2 separate regions of the Homo sapiens genome follow, and region 1 is linked to region 2. The links come from fine-mapping of genetic effects on gene expression. Tissue or cell type: prostate. Region 2 holds a variant in brackets; the other region holds the start of a gene. All regions are shown on one strand. Distances are between the middles of the regions.

Evidence for each region. PIP is the estimated chance that this variant, and not a neighbour inherited with it, causes the effect.
Region 1: CRYBB2 starts here. The variant in region 2 is fine-mapped to the expression of CRYBB2 in prostate (GTEx, PIP 0.91).

What each region holds. Positions count from the first base shown.
Region 1 is chr22:25,215,850-25,224,029 of GRCh38, forward strand. CRYBB2 (crystallin beta B2) reads left to right here and starts at 3,790. Exons shown (of 6, transcript NM_000496.3): 1 at 3,790-3,817; 2 at 5,555-5,634. The coding sequence starts at 5,581.
Region 2 is chr22:25,190,664-25,198,843 of GRCh38, forward strand. KIAA1671 reads left to right here. Exons shown (of 13, transcript NM_001145206.2): 12 at 39-121; 13 at 1,743-6,785. The coding sequence ends at 117. Among named protein-coding and RNA genes, the nearest start is that of CRYBB3, 5.1 kb to the right of the region's middle. The variant T/C (reference allele first, on the strand shown) is at 3,162.

The DNA.
Region 1 (8,180 bases), 25 kb after region 2:
GATAGTTGTGAGGATTGAATTAATGGAACCAGACAGTTTCAGGGCTTAATCCATAAAGCCTAGTCCTACTACTCACTAGCTGTGCAAATTTGGGCAAGTGGCTTAGTCTCTCTGAGCCTCAATTTTCTCTTTTATAAAATGGAATGATCAATAAATACAATACTTACATCTTGAGTTTGTTGGGAGGATTAAAAAAAGATGAGTATGGACAGTGCCTGACTCATGTCAAGCTCTGATACAATCGAAATGTTAGGAATTCTTTCTTATTTATAAGGACACAGCCAGGTCTTGAATCCATTCATTTACTCAACAAATATTAACTGAGGTCTATTATGGGCTGACCTGTGTCCATAAAAGATATTCCAAAGTCCTAACCCCCAGTACCTCAGAATGTGACCTTCTATTTGGAAATAGGGTCTTTACAGAAGGAACCAATTTGAAACAAAGTCATCAGGGTGAAGTTGCCTAGTGAAGTCACCTAAGCCAACATGACTGGTATCCTTATAGGCACAGAAATTTAGACATAGAATCAGCCATGCACTAAGGGAAGATGATGTGAAGATACAGGGAGAAGACAGTCACGTGATTAAAGTGATGCACCTCCCATCCAAGGAACATGAACAATTACCGGCAAACACAAAGGGCTGGGAGAGACAAGGAAGGACCCTCACCTAGAACCCCTGGAGCAGGCATGGCCCTGCTGACAGCTTGATGTCAGGCTTCCAGCCTCCAGAATTACACAACAATAAACTTCTGGGGTTTTTTGGGGGACATTTTTGTGGTAAAATACTGCATAGCATAAAATTAACCATTTTAACCATTTTTAAGAGTACAGTTCAGTGGCATTGTTATGGGACCATCACCACTATCCATCCCCAGCTTTTCCATCATCCCAAACAGAAACTCTGTACCCATTAAACAATAACTCCCCATTCCCCGCTCCTCCCAGCCCCCAGTAACCTCTATTCTACTTCCAGTCTCCATGAATTTGCCTACCCTAGGTAACTTATGTAAGTGGAATCATACAATATTTGTCCTTTTGTGTCTGGTTTATTTCACTTTGCATAACATTTTCAAACCTCATCATGTTGGAGTCAGAATTTCCTTTCTTTTTAAGGCTGAATAATATTCCATTGTATGGATAGACCACATAGTGTTTATCCATTCATCCGTTGATGGACATTTGGGTGGTTTCCATCTTTCGGCTATTGTGAATAATGCTGCTATGAACATGGGTGTGTAAATATCTCTTCAATTCCCTGCTTTCAATTCTTTGGGGCACGTGCACAGAAGTGGAATGGCTGGCTCATATGGTAATTCTATGTTGGATTTTTTTTTTTTTTTTGAGACAGCCACACTGTTTTCCGTAGTGGCAACACCATTTTACATTCCCAATTTCTGTTGTTTTTAAGCCACTTAGTTTGTGACACTTTATTACAGCAGCCCTGGGATTTATTTTATGTTATTTATTTATTTATTTTCTTTGAGACAGAGTTTTGCTCTTGTTGCCTAGGTTGGAGTGCAATGCCATGATCTTGGCTCACTGCATCCTCTGCCTCGTGGGTTCAAGTGATTCTCCTGCCTCAGCCTCCCGAGTAGCTGGGATTACAGGCATGTGCCACCATGCCCGGCTAATTTTGTATTTTTAGTAGAGACGGGGTTTCTCCATGTTGCTCAGGCAGGTCTCGAGCTCCCAACCTCAGGTGATCCGCCTGGCTTGGCTTCCCAAAGTGCTGGGATTACAGGCGTGAGCCGCTGTGCCCGGCCAGCCCTGGGATTTTAAAACAAGTACCTACTATGCGTCAGGCACTGGGCTCTGGAGATACCATGGTAAACCAGGGGGACAACTTCTTTGCTTTTGTGGTGCTTATCTTCTCATTGGAAAGACAGAAAATAAATGAGTAACAGAATGTTGGGTAGTGATGAGTGCTGCAAAAGGAAAAGCCCAGCTAGGGGGCTGGGGCATGTGTGTGTAGTGTGTGTGCATGCGTGTGCATGCATATGTGCATTAAGAAAATGAGAGACAGGGGAAAGCAGGTATACTTGACCCAGTCTCCAAGCCTCAGATTGGATCAAGACACAGCCTGGGCTGCAAGGAAGGTGTGTGCACTAAAGAAACATGAGTAAAGGCCGGGCGCGGTGGCTCACGCCTGTAATCCCAGCACTTTGGGAGGCCGAGACGGGCGGATAATGAGGTCAGGAGATCGAGACCATCCTGGCTAACACAGTGAAACACCGTCTCTACTAAAAATACAAAAAATTAGCCGGGCGTGTTGGCGGGCGCCTGTAGTCCCAGCTACTAGGGAGGCTGAAGGAGGAGAATGGTGTGAACACGGGAGGCAGAGCTTGCAGTGAGCTGAGATCGTGCCACTGCACTCCAGCCTGGGCGACAGAGCGAGACTCCATCTCAAAAAAAAAAAAAATAGAAAAGAAATGTGAGTAAAGGCTGGGCACCCATGTGGCAGCGATGGGGCCAGTGGTAGGGATCTAAGAGCAACTCACTCTAGGACAGTGGTTAAGAAACAGGCCGGGTGCAGTGGCTCATGCCTGGAATCCCAGCACTTTAGGAGGCCAAGGTGGATGGATTGCCTGAGCTCAGGAGTTTGAGACCACCCTGGGCAACATGTCAAAACCCTGTCTCTAACAAGATACAGCAAAAAAAAGAATTTAGCTGGACCTGGTGGCGCACACCTGTAGTCCCAGCTACTGGTGAGGCTGAGGCAGGAGAATCGCTTGAACCTGGGAGGCAGAGGTTGCAGTGAGCCGAGATCACACCACTGCACTCCAGCCTGGGTGACAGAGTGAGATTCCATCTCAAAAGAAAGAAAGAGAAAGAAAGAAAGAGAGAGAGAGAGGGGGAGAGAGAGAGAGAGAGAGAGAGAGAGGGGAGAGAGAGAGAGAGAGAGAGAGAGAGAGAGAGAGAGAGAGAGAAGAAAGAAAGAAAGAAAGAAAGAAAGAAAGAAAGAAAGAAAGAAAGAAAGAAAGAAAGAGAAAGAAAGAAAGAAAGAAAAGAAAGAGAAACAGCCAGGGGCCTTGAGAATAAAATGCACTCTCCATAATTGGCCTCCCTGGCCCTGCAACATCAGGCCCTGCCCACCTTGGCCACCTGGCACAGGCCCTATTTGTCACATGTCATGCTTTAGCTTTGTTAACCTGTTTTCAGGTCTTCTTGAAATACACCATGCTGGTTCCTTGTATATGGACCCTTTCTGCTTGGAACTGTCCCCCCACCCTGTTCCCAGGCTTCCTCTTCTCCATCCCTGAGGGATGCGCTACCTCCCAGGAGCTTTTCTGAATGGCCTGGGCTGGCGTAGGTCCTCTTCCTGACACTCCCCTGGAACAGAGATTGTCACCAAGTGGATGCCCAACAAATATTTGTTGAATGAATAAATGGGTAGATGAATGAAGCCCAGACTCTGCCAAACCACCCTTCTTTACTTGTTCTTCCCCAGGCCCACTGAGATGTTCCTCTGTCTGCCATGCCTCACGGCCTGACTGACCGTACCAGTGAACCCAGCGTACCCCTGGCCCTGGCAGCCGGACGGCTGATGCATGCAAAGCGGGCATCTCCTTGCCCAGCCGCCTGACCGCCCTGGCGCGGCCGAATCTGAAAGCTAATGACATTATTGTGCAGAGACACAATGTCTGTGGGCATTTGCTGACCCGAGCTTTGGTGAGAGCTTAATCCAGCATTCTCACCCTGCTTTTCGCAGGAGCACAGCGGTCACTCATCTTGGCACCGGCACTTCTGGGGAAGGTATAAATGCCACCTCCCGCTGGCCGAGCTTCACGGCACTCGCAGGGGCTGGTGTCACTGGTAAGATTGCCTCTCTTGCTTGTCTTCCCTTCTTTCTCTCATCCTCACCCCTGTCCGCAAGCATGGGAGCACCCAGATTCTGACAAGTGACTTTGGGCAGAGACTTCAATGCTGTTAGCCTCAGTTTTCTTTTCTGGTAACTGGGAAGGGGGTTAAAAAGCCTTCTTTATTGTAAGGATTCAAGAGAAGTTAGGGGATCATCCAGCACAGTGCCTGGCACACAGTGGGCATTGGGGCAATGTTCTTTATTATTAATATTAAACAGACTATCAGCATCCTTGTTTCGCCAGTCGCTGAGGAGGAGAATGTAACTGAGGGTTTTGCAAGAATCAAACCAGTGACAGTTCAGCATTGTTTCTAGGTGGGTGAGTCAGTTTTCCTCCACATCTGCAATTAGGGGGCACCCACTCTGTGCCTAGCCTCTGGGAGTGCTAGGGGATAGGATGCAGCCACAGGTATGTGACAGGTCCCAGCAACAGGTGATTTCAATGCCACTAAAGCATGGTAGAAATGACTCTAATAATGCCACAATTGCTGCCATTTGCTGCATGCTGAGTGTGTTCTGGGACCACGGCCAAGTGCTTCCGGTTTTATACATTACATAATTGAATCCTCACAACCTGTTCACAGGTATTATTAGACATCATTACTGTCCCCATTTTATAGAACAGGAAGTTGAGGCATAGGGAGAGGATGAGACCTGCCCAGAGTCTCAATTCTGGCAGGCAGCAGAGACTGCTCCTGAACTGGACCAACTGAGCTTCTTCAGTCTGTGAACACTCAGGACTGGGAAGTGATATGGCAGGACCTCAGGCACTCTGACAAGCCCAGAGGGCTGGTTTCTTGCGGGAGAGCAGTAGATTTGGCTGCCAAGGTGCTTAACTGCATTTCTTCCTCCTGGGAAACATCCAGTATTGGCCTTTCATGTGGAAGGGGCTTCTGGAAGCTGGCGTTATCTCTGAAGAGGGAGGCCAGGCTTCCTCTCTTACCCCTGGGGAAACACAGCCTGGTTTGACCACCCCTTCTGCAGGAAGGGGGAAGAGGCTGACAATTTTCCAGGCTTTTCTGATGTTCTCACTAGCTAAGGCAGGTCTACCCTGCTGCCTGCCACAGTGCCTGGATTTCTACCGTCGCACCCATTTCTTCTCTTTCTTGTAATGTGGGTTCTGTATCAGATGATTTCACTAATGGGGGAGTAAAACCAGTGGCAGAGAAGAGAAATCTAGGTACCAGGATGGGGAGAGGAGTCCCAGGGAGAGGGTGGGAGAAGGAGCAGGGGAACAGGGAACTTTGTGAGTTCCTAAACTGGGCACCACCACACCACCAAATACAGCCAATGCATAGGTTTTGTTTGTTCCACACAATTTTATTTAAGAAATTACTGCATAAAGGCAGAAGTTCTGGGATTGACCATTCTATATTCTGTGTGGTATCCATTGTCTGGGGTTGAGTGTTGGGAACCCACTTTGGACCTCATTTAAGCTCTAGTTTATTACTGCTCTCTTTCTTTGAGTAGACCTCGTTTTTCCCTCCTCCTGCAGCTGGCCTGGATAGAAATAAATGAAGCTAAGGACAGAAGTTGAAGTAGCTGCTTACGGACCCCACAGCTCTGGGACAGTCTGAAACCAGGAGAAAAAGAGAATGTTTGGGGCCAGAGGGGAGTGGTCTCAAGGCCCCACAGAGTGAAAAAGCCAGTGGCCCCTCCAGGTCCTCACTGCTGCTTCCCATGTCTTCCAGGTCATTCCTGCACAGGACAGTCCACCATGGCCTCAGATCACCAGACCCAGGCGGGCAAGCCACAGTCCCTCAACCCCAAGGTGGGTACCTCTCAGAGGAGGGGGCATGCAATGCTCCTCCCCCAGACTTAGTTGCCCTTCTGTAAAATGGGCTTGGCATCTTTCTTCATGGGTACCCCCTCTCGACCCCTGCCCCTCTCTGGGACTCAGTCTCCTCTACCCACACAGTTGGAGCTGATACTGAAAGTCCCTCCCCAGCCCATAGCTGGCATGCTGGGATTCCCAGTACCAGCCTCTGGCTTTGGAGACTTCAGTTTCTCTCTCCCTTACCTGTTTTGCCACACCCTATTGTCTACAGGGCTCCCTGAAACTGGAGCAGACCCTCATTCTCAGTCAGAGATGGGATTAGTAGATGGAAGGTGGGTGTGAGTCCTGGCTCTGCACCTGCTGTGTGATCCGGGCCAATTATTTGATCCCTCTGAGCCTCAGTTCCATCTCTATAAAAGGAGGAGTCAGATTTATTGCACAGGGAAGTTGTGAGAGCCAAAGAAACCAGGCTCAGCCTAACACCCGGCCTGGGGTGCGCATCCACCTAACACCAGCAAATAATGCCGCCTTTGATTTCTCATCCACCTGTCCACCCAAGGGCGGCAGGATCTTATCCCAACGTCAGAGGCTTGTCACACCCAGTCTGCCCTCAAACCTCTATCTAGGCACGGCCACCTGACTGCCCTCCTGTGCCTCCCTGCTTTGGTAGCCCCGGGCACAGGTTCCTTCAGGAATGGCCCCTTTGTCTGACTCAGTGCCTCCTGGGCCAGGGAAGCCTGAGCAGATACAGCCCCTCACCTGCTCACCCCAATCTGTCCCTTTTAGGGCTTACTTTCCAGAAGAAGGACAGACAATAAATAAATGAATATATGATTTCCAGTAGTGAGAAGTGCTACAAACAATTGTAAACTAGGGGAAGGGGCTCCTGAGAGTCACAGTGGTTGTGTTAGCTCAGGTGGTCCAGGAGGGTCTCTCTGAGGAGCTGACTTTGAGCAGACACCTGGGTCAAGTGAGGAAGCGGCTATATGAAAATTGGGGGTGCCTTTGCCAGGCCGAGGTGGGAGGACTGTTTGAACCCAAAAGTTTGAGCCCAGCCTGGGCAACATAGTGAGATCCCATCTCCACAGAAAAATGAAAAATGGGGGTCAGGGTTGATGAGAGCATCCAGACAAAAGGAACAGCAGGCGCAAAGACTCCGAGGTGGGAATGAACTGGGTGAGTTTGGAAAAAAGCAAGAAGCTCTGTCCACTAGACCTATAATGTGAGCCACATAGGTAATGCAAAATGTTCTAGTAGCCACATCATAAAAAGTAAAAAGAAATAGGTGAAATTAATTTTCATATTACATTTTATGAAACCCAATATATCCAAAAGATGAGCATGTTAATGTATAATCAATATAAGAATTATTAGGCAGATATTTTACATTATTTTTTCCATTCTGAATTTTCAAAATATGATGTGTATGTTACGCTTATAGCACAGTATAAGTAATAATATGGACTAATTACATGTGCTCAGTAGCCATATGTTACTAATGGCTGCTGTGTGGGACAGTGCAGGCTTAAAGGATTGGATAATTTGTAAAATTTTGCCCTCTACTCTATTGATTAATAACAACGCTATTGAGCTCCTGGGTCCTCTGAGCTTCTGGGCTTTCAAATGCATGGAGAAACTGCTCTTCCTCACCTGCCTACCCCTATTCAGGTGGGCACCCCAGGCCTGCTACCTCAGAAACTGCATTTGATCAAGATCCCAGTGTTGTGTGCACAGGTTAGAGTCTGCAAAGTGCTGCTTCAATTTCATCTGCATCAGACAAGTCTGGGCTTCAATTTCAGCTCTTCCACTTATTCACGTGGGATCTGTAGCATGTCTTTTAATTAACATAATTATGTCTCCCACAAGCAGCGCAAATACTATGTGCTAACCACCCACAAGCCCTGGTCTCCCAGGCCAGGGTAATAATAAACTCTAGCCCCGAACTTCCACATTCTTGAGTCCCCATTTGACAGATGAGGGACCTGAGGCCCAGAGTATTGAATTGCTTTTTAGGTTTGTGCAACTGGATGTAACAGAGGACACATTGGAGCCCTTGTCTCCTGACCCTATCTCTGGCCGAGTCAGTGACCGTAAAGGGCTGGGTCACTGACTGTAAAGGCTGGATTGAGCCCGTGGAATTTGCCTCTAAGCCCTGTGCCTTTCCCTTTCTTTGTGTGGCTAATCCCAGGCCTGGGAGAGAGGGCTATGTTTACCCAGCCTGTGCTGACCGTGTCGATTCTGTAGCTGCCCCGACTGAGAGTGTGCTGACCTGAGCCCATCTTTTCATCCAGGGGCAGTTTGCTGGGGAAGTGTGGCTGGAAAACCTCTGCCTCCAAAATTCTCACTGGAGGCCGGGCGCGGTGGCTCACGCCTGTAATCTCAACACTTTGGGAGGCCGAGGCAGGCAGATCACGAGGTCAGGAGATCGAGACCATCCTGGCTAACTTGGTGAAACCCCATCTCTACTAAAAAAATACAAAAAAAATTAGCTGGGCGTGGTGGCAGGCGCCTGTAGTCCCAGCTACTCAGGAGGCTGAGGC
Region 2 (8,180 bases):
TGGTTTCAACTAGTCTCTTACTGGCTTTGTGGTTTCAGGTCGGATGAACCCTCTCCCCAGTGGCTAAAGGAATTGAAATCCAAGAAGAGGCAAAGTCTTTATGAGAACCAAGTTTGACCAGGTATGAAGGGGCTCTGTTGGGGAACCTGGGAAGAGCCCTGCAGTCACAGGAATGGGGAACTCAGGGGGGCCACGCTTCAGAGACTGGGGCTGTTGTACCCAAGGAAAGAGGCTGTGTAAGGGGAAGAATGAGGGGTGGGGGGTGTTCTGAGTTCCTGTAAAGAGGATGGTTATGTCTGTTTCCATTTAGGGAGAAAACAAAGCTGGGCTGCCTGGAGTGGGTGAAAGGTACCAGGCCAGGAGGCAGGTGACTGGGGCTCTGGTCTCATGCACTTGGCTGACCCTTCTAGCTGCATCACAGTCCCCTCTGATAAAACAAAAGGGCGGGGACATCAGAGGTTAGCTTAATTAGAAATGGTTACTTTTTTTTTTTTTTTTTTTTGAGACAGAGTTTCGCCCTTGTCACCAAGGCTGGAGTGCAATGATGCAATCTCGGATCTTGGCTCATTGCGGCCTCTGCCTCCCGGGTTCAAACGATTCTCCTGCCTCAGCCTCCTAAGTAGCTGGAATTACAGGTGCCTGCCACCATGCCCAGCTGATTTTTATATTTTTTGTAGAGATGGAGTTTCACCATGTTGGACAGGCTGGTCTCGAACTCCTGACCTCAGGTGATCCATTCACCTCTGGCTCCCAAAGTGCTGGGATTATAGGCGTGAGCCACTGTGCCCGGCCAGAAATGGTTACAGTTTTTATAGGGGGAGTGTTTCATATACAACCTATGTAGTTAAAAATGAATTTGAAAAAATATACATTAAAAATTACGATTAGATAGGCCCTGGTGTAAGTTGCAAATGACTGAACATCATGAACTTAAGTTTCCTCATCTGTAAAATGGGTTAGCAGTGTCCACACCACCGAGTTGTCCTCAGGGCTCACTGAGAATGCACCTGTGGTGCTTGACTGAGTGCTGCCTGTTTCTCCTCAGTATAGGAGCTCATGGTACGTGCACCATCAAAGTCAGCGTTGATGTGATGAGCACAAGAGACTCACCATCCCTTATCCACAAAGCCAAATTCCAGAAAGCCCTGCAAAACAAAGCTTTTTCCTAAGTCAGTGGTAAAACCTGACCTGAGTGAATATAATTCTACTTTGACTCTATTTTCCCCACTTTATATGAATGTTCATAATACACTGCAGGAATATTATCTGCTTGATTATGGTGGTGTTACATATGTATATATATACATATGTGTATATATTACATGATTATGTATGATGCATGTGTGTATGTATAATAAATACTAAAAATTATAAATTCCCAAATAAAACTATGCTCAAGGGATTTGGATAAGGGATCGGGACCTGTGTTTATTTTGTGTTTGGTGCAGTACATGTAATATCTCATTTAAGCCTCCAGCAACCCCTTTGAGGAAACTGAGGCTCAGAATTGAGACTGGAACCCTGACCTGACCCTAAATTTCATGTTGGTTTCACTGTATTCCATGCCTGCCACCCTCCTCACCTCCCCTTTCCACCCAACACAAAAAATCTCTTTTGTGACCTTAGGCTTCTAGGGGTGACTTCATTGGAGAATATCAGGTGAGATTTTAAGGACTGAGGGTAGAGAGCAATGGAGCCAAATGTTCCCACTGCTGACACCAGTACTGTCCCTTCCTCTCCAGGCAGGGAACACTGCCACATCTACGTAACAGAAGCCTTAACCATCAGAACCCGCAGACGAGGCCGAGCTGCTGCCGTTTCTTCCTGCACAACGCTTACGTGCCTGGGCCCTTCCCATTGGATTGAGAACGCTATCCAGTGCCCCTGTCCTCGCCAGGCTCTCCCTGGATCCAGACGGGAAGACCCAACCTCCAGGAGCACTCGCTCATCTCCCCAGACAGCACTTCAGGCTGGGAAAGGAGCCAGGCTGCCCAGAAACGTCCATGTGGGTGGTTTTGCTTTTTATGTAAAAATTTGCATTTCTACCTATTTTAGACACCTTCATCAGCTCCAAGAACATCAGTGTGAGGCTGGAATTGTCTCCCCAGGTTCTGAAAAACACCTGCATTTGTGAAAGCACCTCCTCACCCGACCCCGGGGCAGGTCTTTTTTTGGAAGGACATTTCCAAGGAAGATCAAACTGTTCATTTTCTGCTGTAGTCTCGGTGCAGGGTATTACCGCTGGGTTGAGGTTTTCTATTCTTTTTTTTTGGTGAGTTCCTTCTTCCCCTTGAGGAATCAGCAGTTCCAATTTTTAAACATACTCTCCCTGATTATGTGTATTTCTCTTTCTAGTGGGGCTGTGTGCATCGTTGGCCTATGTTATTGTATGTCATTTTTGTTTGCTTTAGAAGGCGATAAAGCAATAATTCAGCTAATTTTCTTTGAAACTTGATAGGTATATATGTGTTTACGTTAAAGGACAGGAGGAAAGATGTGCGAATAATTTGTTCTGAAGTATCCAGTCACCTCAGGTTATCTTATCCCTATCCAAGCTGTTTAGAAGTTATAATTGTCACTCTTGTATTTATTTCCATGGCTTCTTTTCATTTGAGCTCTGGTTTCGGTAGGGTGACCTTTGCCCCTTGGCCTTAAGGGTTCATAAACTGCAGCCCAAGTGGTGGTGCCTTTGCTTATGAATCATCAGACCTGCCCTAGTAATCTTTTTCTCCAGAGTCTTCTTTGAACATGACGTGGGCTGCTGGCATGGAGGAGTTGTTCCAAACTGGCCTCAGAACAGATGCATGAATGAAGGGTACTTTTTGCTTTTGCTCACCTCATTTTCCTTCATCTTTCTTGATGAATCCATTATTTGCAAATGCTGTCAAAACATGCTTTCCTTCTCCCTGGCTACCTCTCAGGAGTTCATTTGTCTCTCTGTCTCAGCTTCCTCCCTCATCTTCCTTTACCCCTCTTCTCTGTCTTAGTGGGTGGATGGGCATGGATAGAAATCCTCTGTTTCTTTAGGTTAGGATAAACACCTGGGCCCTGGTGAGGCAGTTGCTGTTCAGCACCAGGGACAGCAACTGCAGGGCTGTGAGGCCGGAGCCCACCTTGTGTCCTGTTCGATGAGCTTTGGTTACTGATGAGCAATTGCCAGA[T/C]CATGTCACCCACCCAGCCTTTTACACCTGGGAGCCTCATGCATCTGGGTTTGGGAGTTTGGCCCTGCTGATGATAGTTTGTTTTCTCTTCATTCCCTGAATTAGTCATCAGTTCTCCGTGGCCATTTGGGGATTCATGCCTGCAACTGCTTCAGTCGAATTCTTTTTTAAAGATCCAGTTTATGTTTTATAATAATTTTGATCTTATGGCTTTCAACGTCAATAGGATCCCCTTTAAAAATACCCTGCTAGTGTTTTGTTTTGTTTTGTTTTTCTGAGACAAGGTCTTACTCTGTTGCTCAAGCTGGAGTGGAGTGGCACGATCATAGCTCACTAACACCTGGGCTCAAGTGATTCTCCCACCTCAGCCTCCCAAGTAGCTGGGACTACAGGTGTATGCTACCATGACCAGCTAATTTTTAAATATTTTTGTAGAGACAAGGGTCTTACCATGTTGCCCAGGCTGGTCTCGAACTTCTGGGCTCAAGCAATTGTCCCTCCTCAGCCTCCCAAAGTGCTCGGATTACAGACATGAGCCACTGCACCTGGCCTGAAACACATTCCTAGTCTTTTGATCCTGACTTCTTATCTGGGCTGCTGTCTCTCTTTCCTTCAGGTGGAAAGGACCCCTTGGTACCATCTCAAGCAGTAGGAAAGGACCTGCTCTTACATATATTGATGGTCCTCATGCAAAACTCTCAATTCTTAATTAGTCATGTCTCAGCTCAAGGATATCAGACAGGAATGAAACACACTTGAAAATGAGATTGACCTGGAGATTTTTTTTCCCTAATCTCTCATACCTTAATTGGAAAAATAATCAATTAATTCTATGTTAATTAGGATATACAAAGTTCACCCTCCTTGAAAGTGACTAGGGCAAGCCCTGAAGATCTTCCTCACCTCCTTTTATTTTTCTATAACCTTGTCTCCTCCAGCACCACAGGGAAGACAATCACAGTGGGTCAAGAGCGACCCTCTTTCACGTGGGCTCTGCCATGACCTCTGAGACCTGCTTATGATCAGTGCAATGAAGTTAGAAGTAACTGATGATTGGGAGCCTTTGCAGATAGCTGGGCAAATGGGTGATTTACTTATCCCCATTCTAAATGGAGTGAGCTCTCTTTGAGGCTAAGCAAGGAGGCGTTGTATGCTAGTTTCTAGACTTTGCCTGGAGACCCCTTTGGAAATCTGTCTTCTTTTTAAACTCACTTAATATGCCTTAATCATCTGTGTGTAATGGAGTCATCCGCTCCTCAATCTAACCCTCCTCCCCTGGGGCTTTGGCTGTCCTCAATGAGAGTTTCATGCAGAATGGAAAATCCTCTATATGTACAATCTCTCTCCCCCTCATTTCTCTTCCTCCTCACCTCCACCACCCCTTTGCACATCAGCATTTTAACAGCTGATCTTTTGAGAAGCCTGTATCTTTTTCCTCTTCAGTAGATACCCTTCTTCATGGTCCTTTGCCTAATCAAACAGAGGCTTTTGGCCTTTGAAAATCCATGACAAGGCCTCAGAAATCAGTGTTGTGGAGGATTACTCCATGCCACCGGAGAAACTCTGGTGAAAGAGAAACCTCGTGGTCTTTAGGATGTTGGGATTTTGAGTGAACCTGACCTGATAGCCTCAGGATTCAGGGAAAGGACAATCAGATGGCGGTGTTTTCCAGGGGGACGCGCCAAATCATGTGGTTTCAGACAATTGTGTTTGCCTTTGTGCCTCCCTGGAAGGGAGGCCAACTAAGGGTATCACCAAGAAGCCAAAAGAGAAATAGGCATGAGCCTGTGGTTTTAAACTTTACAGGCTGGGCAAAGGATTTAGAAAGACCCTTAGCATGATTTTCCTAAAAGAGACCTTAGCTGCTCCAACCTGGTGCTGATAGCTGCTTTGTTGATCTATGCTTTAAAATTTTTCTTTATAATGCCCCCAGATGGCTCCTGGAACTAGTCGTAATTGCAAACTGTAAAAATCCCTCCTCCCCAGTGTAGATATTTAAACCAGAGTAAGTGATGGGGAGACATTCTGTGGTCTCTGAATGTGCCTTCCCCCTCACCGTGTGTTAAAACACAAAAGCCGAAGTTCCATGGCATCATGATTCCGAGGGGCTGGAGGGATAGGACCCACTCCACATCTAAAGGGGATCTGCTTTGGGCTCGGTCCCATTAGCGAGTGGGGGACTCTTGCTGTGTGCTAAGAGGCTGCTAGGACTCACCCAGTTGGAATTCTGGGTGGGCTCAGGAAGTTTAGAGCCACGTAAAAAGCTGGTAGGCATGAGTGTGCCAGGTCTTTGCCAGCCTGCGTCTCCTTTTGCACCCCCCAATCCAGAGTTTGCTTTCTTTTGACTAAATTGGCTCCTGCAGGGGGAAGGGCAGAAAGCTAGGCCCTCTGCTCTGGAAAGTCGGCCTGAGGTTTCCGGCAAGTTAACCCTTAAAATGGACACCCCTCAGCCCGCCCTCCCCTTTGGCCTTCCCAGAATCTCCTTCAGTGGTTGCTCTCACACCTGTGCCATAACATCATCTTCCATGACTTGGACGGGCACTTCCTTGACAATTCCTATTGGCATCACACGGGCTACAAATTATGCTGTTTTCTAAAGAATTTGAACTTTTTTTTTTTTCTTTTCTTGAGACACGGTCTTGCTCTGTTGGCCAGGCTGGAATGCAGTGGCACAATCATAGCTCACTCCAGCCTCCAACTCCTGGGCTCAAGCAATCCTCTCATCTCCACCTCCAGAGTAGCCTAGATGACAGGCGCACATCACCACGCCCAGCTGATCTTTTAAATCTGTTTTGTAGAAACAGGATCTCACTATATTGCCCAAGCTGGTCTTAAACTTGGTCTCAAGTGATTCTACTGCCTCAGCCTCCCAAAGTGCTGGGATTACAGGCCTGAGCCACCATGCCCAGCTGAATTTGAGCTTTTTAATAATCTCATTCCACATAGCCTTATAGATCCTGTAAATAGGGGGGGTCACAAAAGTAATATATTGTGTTATGGAAGATAATTTTGTACTGTGCTGTTTCCTAAATCATACCAATATCCTAAAGTCATGCACTTCCCAGATGATCGTGATCCTCCAAATGCTTTGTAAGATGGGGCAGGGCGTGGAAATATATATATATACACACACACACAGAGACACACACACACACAAGTATAGTATATATTTTCCTAACCTTTCTTCTGGGTCCTTCCTCAGATCTTTGAGTCACGATAGAAAAGGAGCTCGAGTTCTTTGTGTAGGAAAGTTAAGCTTCCTGCCTGCGGTGTTCTTGCAATTGCCTTAGGAATTCACAAGCTCTAGGAGTTCTGAACGGAAGGCAGACGAGAGGCACTTTATCCAGTCCCAGAAAGAATCTCTAACCGTGTGACTGAGAAGTCATCTAGAAAAACTTATATTTTTAATGTAAAAACAAATGGGGCTTACCAGACCTCACAGAGTATTGGACGTCTACAAGTGCTTTTATATTTTGTAACTGTAAAGAAGTTTCATATGCACAGAAGAGCAGTTGGAAATCTGGTCGACTGCAATAAAACAAGATGACCTTTGCATGTACAAAGATGTTGCATTCAGACTATGAAAATAGCAAATAAAGCTTTGGTGCAAGTTGCATTGGAGAAGTCGGTGCGTCCATGTGTGAATGAATAGAGTCTCCCATGCATGCAGGCCCTGACTGGGGCTGGCTGAGTCAGTCTGTCCTGTGCTGAGCTGTGGGCCAGCCAGCGAGAGGGCAGAGCTGGGGTCCTGGGAGAGGGTGTCCATGCAGAATGGGAGGCCATGGAAACAAGGCAGGATTTCCATTCAGACTGACAAGGGGTTGAGTCCTCCTCCTGCCACCCTCTGGCTGTGGGATTTCTTTTAAACATTGGTTCTCCTTAGCTATACAATGGGAGTGGTGATCAGGACATTTTTGCAGGTAACAGTTTAAGGTGGTGGTTCTCAGCTGGGTGGATTGTGCCCTCCAGAGCATGTCTGGTAATGAAAGGAGGCATTATTGGTTATCACAAGAAGGAGAGAAGATGCTCCAGGAAGTGAGTAGAGGCCAGGGATGCTGCTCAGCATCCTGCAGTGCACAGGACAGCTCCCACCCCGACCCCACCACAAAGAATGACCCGACCCCAAATGGCAGTAGTGTCAAGGTTGAAAAGTCTAGATTGGGGAGATGTGGTACATCAAAGTGCTGAGCGTGCAGTAGGTCTGCAAGGTCCTCAAAGATGTGATGGGAGGGGGAGCCACGCCATCCCCACCTCTGCCTTCCTCCTTCTGTCCCAGCTGGTGGCAACTACATCCCAACTCAGGGGGTCCAAACCGACTGCTTTCTGTGACCTTCAGCAGGAAGTAGCCCCTTGGCTTGAACTGTCCAGAGTAGGCAGGATGCTGGGAATAAAAGTCAAAAATAACAGATACTGTGCGCAGTGCTTTGCTTGCATGACCTCCCAAAATGGCCCAAGTGGAGAGAAGGTTCTCCATTTATGGTGAGGAGACAGTAGCTCTGAGACCTTCAGGAACTCGTCCAAGGTCACACACATCTGCCTGACTCAGAGTCCAGCTGTCATCCACAGCATCTCACCACCATCTCCCTCTAGGGGGTACAGGGTAACTGTGTTTTTGTTTGTTTGTTTGTTTTTTGAGACGGAGTCTTGCTCTGTTGCCCAGGCTGGAGTGCAGTGGTGCGATCTCAGCTCACTGCAAGCTCTGCCTCCTGGGTTCACACCATTCTCCTGCCTCAGCCTCCCATGTAGCTGGGACTACAGGCACCCGCCACCACACCTGGCTAATTTTTTGTGTTTTTAGTAGAGACAGGGTTTCACCGTGTTAGCCAGGATGGTCTCGAGCTCCTGACTTCGTGATCCGCCTGCCTCGGCCTCCCAGAGTGTTGGGATTACAGGCGTGAGCCACCGCGCCCGGCCTGTAACTGGGTTTTATGCTGACTTGAGGATTTTAGCCAAAAACAAATACCAACAACAACAAAAGAAAACCTTGTTAACTCACTCCTTTGCTCCAATATAATTTTA